Linked DNA regions of Homo sapiens: region 2 is reported to be linked to region 1. The links are microRNA targets in miRTarBase. Many come from high-throughput screens and were not tested one by one. Region 1 holds a microRNA gene; the other region holds the end of a gene's coding sequence.

Evidence for each region. The annotated mature microRNA hsa-miR-6127 reads UGAGGGAGUGGGUGGGAGG and lies in region 1 at 3,372-3,390, opposite strand. An mRNA with a match to its seed (bases 2 to 7 or 8) in the 3' UTR can be bound and repressed. Matches are read on the target gene's strand: a 7mer-m8 pairs with bases 2 to 8, a 7mer-A1 pairs with bases 2 to 7 and ends in A, and an 8mer does both.
Region 2: miRTarBase lists HOXC6 as a target of hsa-miR-6127. Seed matches in the 3' UTR shown: 7mer-m8 at 4,633-4,639 and 8mer at 4,501-4,508.

Annotation. Positions count from the first base shown.
Region 1 is chr1:22,629,957-22,635,027 of GRCh38, forward strand. MIR6127 (microRNA 6127) reads right to left here and starts at 3,410; the gene lies at 3,302-3,410.
Region 2 is chr12:54,029,564-54,034,634 of GRCh38, reverse strand. HOXC6 (homeobox C6) reads right to left here. Exons shown (of 2, transcript NM_004503.4): 2 at 3,812-4,980. The coding sequence ends at 4,673. It overlaps HOXC5 (homeobox C5), which reads right to left and starts at 1,585. Exons shown (of 2, transcript NM_018953.4): 1 at 1,059-1,585; 2 at 1-357. The coding sequence starts at 1,512. The coding sequence ends at 143. MIR615 (microRNA 615) reads right to left here and starts at 685; the gene lies at 590-685. It also overlaps a transcript of HOXC4 not described here. RefSeq lists a silencer at 487-546 and enhancers at 630-1,781, 1,776-2,070.

The DNA of each region.
Region 1 (5,071 bases):
TTGCTAACAAAACCCTGATCTTATTGGGTGGTGGGGACAAAGAATGGAAGGATAGACCCCAAAAGGCCCAGAAGGAGGGTTTTGCAAGAAAGGCGAGACTAAGACAATCTCCATAATAAAGAACAGAGAGCAGGAGAGTCAGGGAGAAGGAGGAACAGTGGCTCTGGGCAGAGGGGCCGGGAGATTTTTTTTTTTGCTGGAGACAGGAAGTTGAAGACAGAGGTCTGGAGGAGTGGATGGAAAAGAGCAAAGAGCACTGGTGTCAACTCTATGCCTCCTTCCTGGTGTTCAAATGTACAGCAGAGAATTGAGTGTATCTGTTCACAGGGCTGGGTGGGGCAGAGGACTTGCACCAGAATGTTCTTAGCAGCTTTATTCATCATAGCCCAAACTCTGTACCAACAGAAGGGACAAACAAAGTGTGATACTGCATATGCATACGATGGAATAGCACTCAGCAATACCACGCAAACTGACACACGTAACACAGATGCATCTCACCGGCATGCTCTTCAAAAGAAGCCAGACACAAAAGAGCACAGGCCGCATGATTCCATTGACATGAAGTTCAAGAACAGGCAGAAGGCACCAATGGTGAGGGAGAGCAGAACACCGGTTACTTTGCGGGTGGAGGGGAGCACTGTTGACTTGGAGGGTCACGGCCGCCTCGCTGGGGAGATGGATACTCTGCACTCTGATCTGAGTGGTGGTAGAGGGCCTGTGCGTGCAGGTGTAAGCTACTGAGCAGTGTGCTTGAGATGTGCACATTTTACTCTGTGCAAATTATGCCTCATTTTTTTTAAAAGAAATATACAAGCACCTTAGAGTCGCATTATATACACACTTGCCTATCTCCACTTCGCCTAATAGGACTCAGAGAGAGAATCACAATTTAAGTAAGGCAGGGGATATTGGTTTTTTTTTTTTTTGAGACGGAGTTTCACTCTTGTCGCCCAAGCTGAAGTGCAATGGCCTGATCTTGGTTCACTGCAACCTCCACCTCCTGGGTTCAAGCAATTCTCCTGCCTCAGCCTCCCGAGTAGCAGGGATTACAGGCATGTGCCACTAGGCCAACTAATTTTATACTTTTAGTAGAGACAGAGTTTATCCATGTTTGTCAGGCTGGACTCAAACTCCCGGCCTCAGTTGATCCACCCTCCTCGACCTCCCAAAGTGCTGGGATTACAGGCGTGAGCCACTGCTCCCAGCCAGGGGATACTGTCTTCTAAGAGCCTATTTCTGGAGGGACCGTGGCTGGGAGAGTTCTGCTGTCCCCAAGTCTGCCTCCGCTCCTGTGAACCCCTCATGATCTAAACACCTCACCTCCAAGGGTGGCTCCAGTCTCCAAAGATTCAATTCCTTTGTGTGTGAGTGGTGGGGGAATTGGTTAACCTTAACCAACTGGTACTCAACTGAAGAAAAAGAAATCTGTTCTACTATTGGAGCCAAAACTGACAGCAAAAGACTATTGTGAAACGGTAATACAGTCTTTCACGTGGCGCTGTTTGAAGAATTTTTCCACCATTTACAATGGTGATACTCACCATTTACAATGTTTGCCTCGTATGCCGATTTTGCAACACAACCCTTGAATGGGATGTGACTGCCATAAAGAATTCAAGTCATTTAAAAATTATTTTTTGGTTATTTATTTGACCTTTGATCCCACTCTGAGACTGAACCTCATGGATCATAACTGTGCAAGCATGGCTAGGAATTTCCTCTCTTCCCCACATCTCCTGCCTCCCGTCTAGGAGTCTGGGCTCTGGAGAAATGGAAGAATATGCCCTTCCTCTCCGCCTGAAGGTGTCCCTGTTGTGACATGCACAGGGCCATTGCTGACCCTTTTATTTCTCACACTAATGATATGCGCATTAGTATCGATGTCTTTTATTTCTTGGGAAGTGTTTATACTCTTGCAACAGCCTGATAAGTAAAATCATCCAACACTTGGAAATAAGGCAAATAGATAACCGGTGTCCTTTCAAAGTCAAATGAGAGCTGTATCTAACAAACCCTGCTAAGGGTCATCTGACACTCTAGGGGAATGTCACTTGGCTTGACTTATTATTTACTATTGATTAGAGCCCAGATTCAGTAAAGATAGCTGTTAACTGGTAGAAAACTGTTAAGTTGCAAATTATTTTTGTCTAGTAGAGATGCAAATGATTTCTTTTCAATAGAGAAGATAGCCCCAACATGATGATTTTATTGCCCTATAGAACACTAACCAGTTTTGTATCTAATTTAGCAATTTTATGAATATTCCAGAATTCTTGTTGTTTTAACTGACTCTCTCTGTCTCCATATATAGGTATACATATATATTTTTTTCCATATCCATTGAACTAGCTTTGTCACCCAGCTGGTTCCTCCATTAACAACCTACAAGAGGACACTGACACATTCCCACACTGTATTTCTATAGGAACTGGGTATTCAATATTTTGAAAACTAGACTTTGAGAAGCTTTTCACAGTATCTGATTTTTCCTCTTGCCAACTCTTGCCCCTGTCTGTGTGACCCGGGCAAGTCTTTTTTTGTCTCTGGTCCTTTGTGTCTTCAGAGTAAAATAGGGCACGCAGGGCTGGCGTTTCTGCCTCGGGCATGTCATGTTTCTAACTCCTCTGGCAGGCAAGCAGGGCTGACGCAATGCAGTCAAAGAAGATGGATACTGGGCCGGGCGCGGTGGCTCACACCTGTAATCCTAGCACTTTGGGAGGCCGAGATGGGCAGATCACCTGAGGTCAGGGGTTTGAGACCAGCCTGGGCAACATGGCAAAACCCCGTCCCTACTAAAAATACAAAAATTAGCCGGGCGTGGTGGTGCACACACGCCTGTAATCCCAGCTACTTGGAAGGCTGAGGCAGGAGAATCTCTTGAACCCAGGAGGCAGAGGTTGCAGTGAGCTGAGATCGAGCCACTGCACTCCAGCCTGGGCAACAAAGTGAGACTGTCTCAAAAAAAAAAAAAAAAAAAGAAGAAGAAGAAGAAGAAGAAGATGGATACTGGGCTGGGCGCGGTGGCTCACGCCTGTAATCCCAGCACTTTGGGAGGCCGAGATGGACAGATCACCTGAGGTCAGGAGTTTGAGACCAGCCTGGGCAACATGGCAAAACCCCGTCTCTACTAAAAATACAAAAATTAGCTGGGCATGGTGGTGCATGCGTGCCTGTAATCCCAGCTACTTGGAAGGCTGAGGCAGGAGAATCTCTTGAACCCAGGAGGCAGAGGTTGCAGTGAGCTGAGATCCAGCCACTACACTCCCACCTGGGCAAAAAAATGAGACTCTGTCTCAAAAGAAGAAGAAGGAGGAGGAGGAGGAGGAGACTGGAAGGGATGTTAGAGGCCATTTGGGGCAGCCTTCCCACCTCCCACCCACTCCCTCATCTTGGTAGATGGAGAAAGTGGGGTTCAGAAAGATGAGATAACTTGCCCAGGGTCACACTGTGAGTTAGGTATGGGCTGAGCAGATGAGATTCCAGCTCCACGAACTTTCTGAATCCAGGGAGCATGGGAGGGGCTGTCAGGGGGAGCTCTGGGCCCCCACCCTTCAAGCCAGTATCCCCATTTTTATCTGTTTGACATACATCAGATGCCACACAAGATTGCAAATGAAAAAGAAGTCCCCAAAGCTCAAAAACCCTGGCTCTAGACCATCCTTCATCTGCCCACTTCAACAGCCTTCCCTTATCTCCTCCCTCCTCCTCCTCTTTTCCTCCTCCTGCCTCTGGCAAAATTTTCAGAAAACAAACAAACAAACAAAAACATGCTCATGAGAAGAAGCAGACAGATGTGGTCAGCCCAGGCCTGAACACATTGGTCTCCAGTCTGGGAGAGACAGAGCCTCTCTATCTAAAGAAAAGCATTCTCAGGGTCCAAGCTGACAATGATGCAGTGTGCCGTGCTGACAGGTAATGAGCATCCCATCAGTTAAGGTGAGTAAGGCTAGATGATCTGTTCAAACACTAGCAGCAATTGTCTCTAGATGGTAGAATTCACAGGCTTTTGTTGCTGGGTTTTGTTTTTTGTTTTTTTTTGAGATGGTGTTACAGGATCTTTGGGGTGTCATTTTCTGGCCGGAAACCTCTGTGGCTGGTGGCACCTTTGCCCAAGTTTTGCTCAGGCCCACTGGGCTTGTTTCACTCACTCCTCCTGGCAGGCAGCACTCAGCTCACATTACCAGCCTGGGTTCCACATCTGCCCAGGGCAAGTCAGGCATGGAACAGTGAAGGGTGTGTGAGTGAACATGGGGTCTGGCCACTGCACACAGTCAGACATGCCGGCTGCTGCAGCGGGGTGAGCAGCTCCAGGTGCCAGCATGGGCGCCAGCTCTCTGAGAGGTTGTGGCTAGACCAAGTACACCACAAGCAGCTTCCACAGCTGGCACCGGGGAACACGGTGGCACCCAGAAGCTTCGAGATGCCAGGAACCACAGGGCCCCGAAAAGGGAGTCACAGCTCCAGCTTGGGGAGCTCCCAGGTCTGGGTTCCCCAGAGGGCCGCAGCTCTTCTTTCCTTCCCTTCACCTGCATCATGGCAAGCAAGGGGCATGTTTCAGCCTTGTTTGTGTTACAGCTCTTTCAGCCCCACCATTTGATGGGTCCCAAGTTCTTATCCTGCAACCAGGAAGAATGAGGTATGCAGACAAGTGGGGAGTGAGCAAGACGAAGAGGAGCTTTACTGAGCGATAGAACAGCTCAGCCTCCTGCAGAGCCTCCCTCAGGGGGCAGCTCCTTTCCACAGCCAGGGTGTCCTGATGAGTGTTCAGCTGCTAGCAGAGAGGAGACCCTGGAATGGGAAGCTCCTCTCTGCAGGCAGGTCATCCTGTCGACTTTCCAGCTCTCAGAAGAGGGAAGACCCTGGAATGGGAAGCTCCTTTCTGCAGGCAAGTTGTTCTGCCATCTCTGCAGCTCTCAGCAGAGAGGAGGCCCTGGAGCGGGTAGCTCCTCTCGGCAGCTGGTCATCCAATGTCTGCCCAGCTCTGGCTGAGCCTGAAGCTTTCATGAGCCTCAGAGAGGAGGAAGTGCATACTGATTGGTCCATGGGTGGCTATAGGCAAGCCCAGAAA
Region 2 (5,071 bases), not on the chromosome of region 1:
AAGCGCTTTTGTCTGTGGGGCCCGGGAGCCCAGTGCTCCAGCACCTGCCCCCGACCCGAAATATAGAGAGGAAAGGCGAAAAGGAAAGGCGCAGGGACAGGAACCGGCTAGGGGCGCGCTCTGCGGGCCTCCCCCGCTGCCTCTAAAGAGCCTCTTTGCTTTTCATTTTGGAATCTTTCTTCCACTTCATCCTGCGGTTCTGGAACCAGATCTTGATCTGTCTCTCATTGAGACACAAGTTGTTGGCGATCTCTATGCGCCTGCGGCGAGTGAGGTAGCGGTTAAAGTGGAATTCTTTCTCGAGTTCCAGAGTCTGGTAGCGCGTGTAACTGGTTCGGGACCGCTTGCCGTCCGTCTCTGGAACATAAACCCCACCCCAAGCCAGGAAGGGGTGAATAGCTTGCAGCGTTCCCCCGTCCCCACCCCAGCCCAGGCCCCCACCCGCGGCCGGAGGGAGAGGAGGCGAGAGCCGCAAGACAGGCCACGCGGGCCGCAGGCGGGCCAGCCCAGCCCAGCCCCGGGAGAGGCGCCTCCGCCCAGGCAGGAAACTTTCCACCGCAGCCTTCACTCTGCAGCCGGAGGGGCTGAGGGGGGGTTGGGGGGAAGAGGGAGACCCAGGCTCGGACCGAACAATAAGCACCCTCGAGATCCGAGCACCGGGGACCCCCCTCCCGCCCCTCCCGAGTCGCTGGAATCCTCCGGAGCCGCAAGCGCCGGCGGAGCCGGCTCCGCAGGGGAGGGAGGGAGGGAGCCGCGGGGGGATCCCCGCTCTGGAGCCCCGCGCTCCTCACCCTTCAGATCCCTCTATTTTTTTAACTCCCTCCCTCTCCCCCAAAAATTGAATATTGCCTTTTATACACGTTTTGTTCCTATGATCCAATTATGTCGTCGTAAATTTGGGCGCACACAGCCTCTAAGCCTTTTAGTGGACAGTTTTACGAGCCATTGATGCCTGGATCGTAAAATTTATGGCCGCAGGTTTTTTTTCTTTATTTGCCCCGCATGGCCTATAAAACCCAGGCGGACCCGAGAGCGCAAAATGAAGTCCTAAAGTTTACCGTGGCTCATGTGCAGTTTGGTCATCCACGGGTAAATCTGTGGCGGGGCCGGTGGCTGGCTCAGTCCGGCGGGCTGCCCTGTCTGCGCCTGCTCCTCTTTGATCTCCCCACTGCTCTTAGCTCGCTCCTCCAGCGCCGGGCGAGCCGCCTTCTGACTGTACATCCCGGGGTTCAGAGGAGCCGCTTCGTCTCTGCCCGGAGCGTGTCCCGGAGCGGCCGCGGCGCTGCAGGCGGGGCGGTCGGGGTGAGCCCGGGGGTTGGCAGCCATGTCTACCCCGTGGAGAGAGTTGGAAGGCGCAGGCGGTGGGAAAGTGATGCTTAAGTCCAATCCGCCGTAGCAGTACCTGGATGCCTGCACCTCTGAGGCCGATCCATAGTTCCCACAAGTTTGCATGTTATAGGCAGGGATATTGGGGCTCTGCTTATAGAATGAATTGGCTACGTAGGAGCTCATGGCGGGGAGGGCCCAAAAAAATTTCTGCACCCTTTTTGATTAAGGGTGATTTGTGACTCTTTGAAGTTGAGGGGTTTTTTGTTCTCCAAAGTGGACAATTTATAGGTGGAGATATCTCTTTCTTTATCCTATGCGCTCTTCCCAAATAAGGGAGCCTTAAATAGAGTCACGTGACTCGAGCGGCCACTCATAAATTTGGCTTGATGACCTCCGGGAGGTTAGTGATGGAAGCCGGCGAAAAGCATCTCGATATGTTGGCAAAGCCCAACCAAGGGGGAGAGGGAGTGAGAGAGAGAAAGAGGGAAGGGGGAGGGAAAAAAAAAAAAAGGTTCTTGGAATTGGGGGTAGCCGGGACAACAAGCCCACAGCGACACCTGGTGCCTATGTGGGGGAATTGCATCCTGGAGCGCCAGCTTGCTTTCCGGTGGCTGGATTTCCTACACTGTGAAGGAGAAGCTGGTTGTTGGGGCAACCCCTGAGCTAGCCTTTTAAATTCTATTTAAAATTGGGAAAAGACGAGGCCCCACTTATAACGCACAGAGTGCTTTTTGTAATGAAAGTCCCGTTCTCCCAACCTCCAGGGTCTTCCAATCTTCAAAAATGGCTGAGGAAAGGGGATTAAGTTAGGTAAGGTGGCCTATGCCCAGGCTGGAGAACCAATGGGGTTTAACTTAGGTTCCCTAAACCAAAGGTAGAAGTCCCTTGCCTCTCAGGCCCTAAGGCTCCACTACTGCTGAAGAGGTGCCTATCAGCAAGAGAAAGTAGAATTAGCTTCTGAAGAGGTAGACAGGACGCCCAGGAGGAGGGATCCTGAGTGGTCAGAACAAGATAGGGGGGTCATGAAGCTGAGGGTGTTGCAGGCTGTTTGGGATGGATCTGGAGGTGAGGAGCCAGGTGGAGTTGGCTAGACCTCACCATGCTAGGGTCCCCAGAGTGGCAACAAGGCAATTTTCAAGTGTGTGTGTGGACACGGACAGAGCCAGACAATGGTCTAGAGGACTGCTCTGTTTCCCTGTGTGCGATCCTTATGTGGTACCTATGCCAGAGGTTTTAGACAGAAAATAGATGTTAATTGAGGACATGGAGAAGCAAGATTGAAGCCTCCACAAATATTACGTGAGCATGGCAGAGGAAAAGGCCCGTTATGTGCCCTTTGGGGAAAAGGTCTCTGGGCTAGGCTTTCCAGGGACCTGAATCCATAAGGTTCACAAGAGAGCAATTTCTGAGCTACCAAGAGGAATGGGGCGGACCTGGGGGGTGGGCAGGGCAGGCGCCTGGGTAGCCTTCGCAGGGTATCTGCAGCCATTCGGCCCCATCCTCTTCCCCCGTAGCCCCAAGTCTCATACTTCCCTGCCTGCTTCTTCCCAGGAAATCTCCGCCCCGCCAGGAGAAGGCCCCCTCCTCACTGGTGGAGGCACTGGAGGCGAGGGTGGGGGCGCTGGAGGGAATCTGAAGGGCCCGGAAAACTCTGGCGGATTTTTTCCCTCCGGAGACCCTCCTCAACACCTCTCCCTGTAGGCCCACTCAGGTTTCTCTGGCCAGGCTTGGAGAGAGAAGGCCAGGGTTGATAAATGGTTAGGGTCCGGCTGCGCTCCTCACCCGCCTCTTCACCCGTTTGAGGAGAGAAAAGTAAGGAACCAGCCCGGCTGGAGCTGTAATGAAGAAGGAATTTTGTCCCGGCCACGTCAGGAGTACCAGAGCAGGCGAGAGCTCAGTTTCCAGGCTTTCTCTCTCGAGATGTCCTTGAATCGCTCAATCCCTGCCGACAGGGCTCCAGTCCCGCGGTCTTCTCTTTCCCTCCGCTCTCCGCCTCCGCTACGTTTCGCAACAGCCAGCTTGGCGCGGGCCTGGGGCTTGCTCTCACGGCGCCCCCCGCCTCCAACTCCCGGGAGTGGGTGGAGGAGACCCTGGTGCCTGGATAGTGCTTCTTTACTGGTCTTTCGGGGCGCCTCAGGGTTCGGACGCCGAGGACACCGGCTGCCACAGGCAGGAAGAAAGGCCTGCGTGGGGTTGGTGCCCAAACCGACTGATCCCAGCTCCCCCCGCAACAAAATCCTACGCGGCTTTTTCCCGCAGGGTGTGTGTGTTGCTCCGCGCAGGGAGCCCAGAGAGGCCTCCCAGCCCCTCAGTGCGATCGCGAGAACGAACAGAAGGCCGGGGCCGGGCGCCTGGGCTCCGGGGAAGGCGAGTGCAGAGGGCTGGGGGCTTGCAGGGGGCCGGCAGGCGCGGGAGCGCTTGGAGCCTGCTCCAGCTCTCACCCTGAGGCCGGCGGGCGAGCGAATTAACAGAATTCCCGGTATAAAGTTTTAAAAATAATATCAGTTTTATTAAATATTCGAGAACGGACCCAGAGGTTGGATTTATACAGGAGGGTAACACGAAGGGATTTATTTATTTATTTATTTTCTCCTACTGGCTAAACAAACGTCATTCACTTTTTTTCTCTCTTTTTGTAATTTTCCCTCTTTTTTTTCCTTTTTTGAAATTGGATAGGAACACTGACGGTGCTAAACATAAATATAAATACAGAGACCACAAATACAGCTAAAAATCTTCACACAGAAACGGTCACAGTTTGTAAAATGCCATAATGACCCCCAGGATTCTTTAAATACAATTTGCCTGGGCTGGGCATTTGCTGGGGCAGAGGGGCTAGGCAGGGACTGCGGGGAGGCCCTGGGGGTTGGTGTGGGGCCAAGGCGCGCCCTCCTTGGGCCTCCGGCCCTCCCCGGCTGCCAGGCCGGGCCCTGAGGCCCTGGAGCAGAGGCCCCAGCAGGCCCAGGAGCCGGCTCTCTGCACGGGGGGCGGGGGTGGGGGCGTCGAAGGAGTGGGGGAGCCAAGTCCTCACTTGGAGGGCAATCTGTAGAGTCTGAGTTCAGGGTCCGAGCCCCCAAGGCCTGGACGGGGAAAAGGGCCTGTAGACAAGCCGAGAACGAGCTAGCAAGGGAGCGAGGAGGAGGAGGCGCGTGGTGAAAGAGAGTTGTGCGGTGAGGGAGGGGGTCCAGAGCTGACTTTCAGGTCCACGTTTGACTCCCTAATTTTGTTTTAGGGAATCAAAACACATCAATTGTGCCAGTGATAAATACAGAGTGTGTGATTAGGGGAGAGTTGGTGGGGAGCGAGGGAGAAAGGGAGAGAGGGGTGGCAGGGACAGTCCTGGTCACTCTTTCTGCTTCTCCTCTTCTGTCTCTTCCCGCTTTTCCTCTTTTCCGCCCAGGCTGTCGGCGGTGGCCCCTCCGCCGCCCCCCGAGAGAGTGGATGTGAGATTAGATTCTTTTTTCCACTTCATCCGGCGGTTCTGGAACCAGATTTTGATCTGTCGCTCGGTCAGGCAAAGCGCGTTGGCGATCTCGATGCGCCGGCGCCGCGTTAGGTAGCGATTGAAGTGAAATTCCTTCTCCAGTTCCAGGGTCTGGTACCGCGAGTAGATCTGGCGGCCGCGCCTCCGGTCCGCTCCGTAGCCGACCCCTAAAGATCCGGGCACAAAACACACTAAAAGCAATCAGCAAAGCGTCCTCTGCAGACTGTTTCGCCTAGCAAAGTCCTGACCCTCCCAACC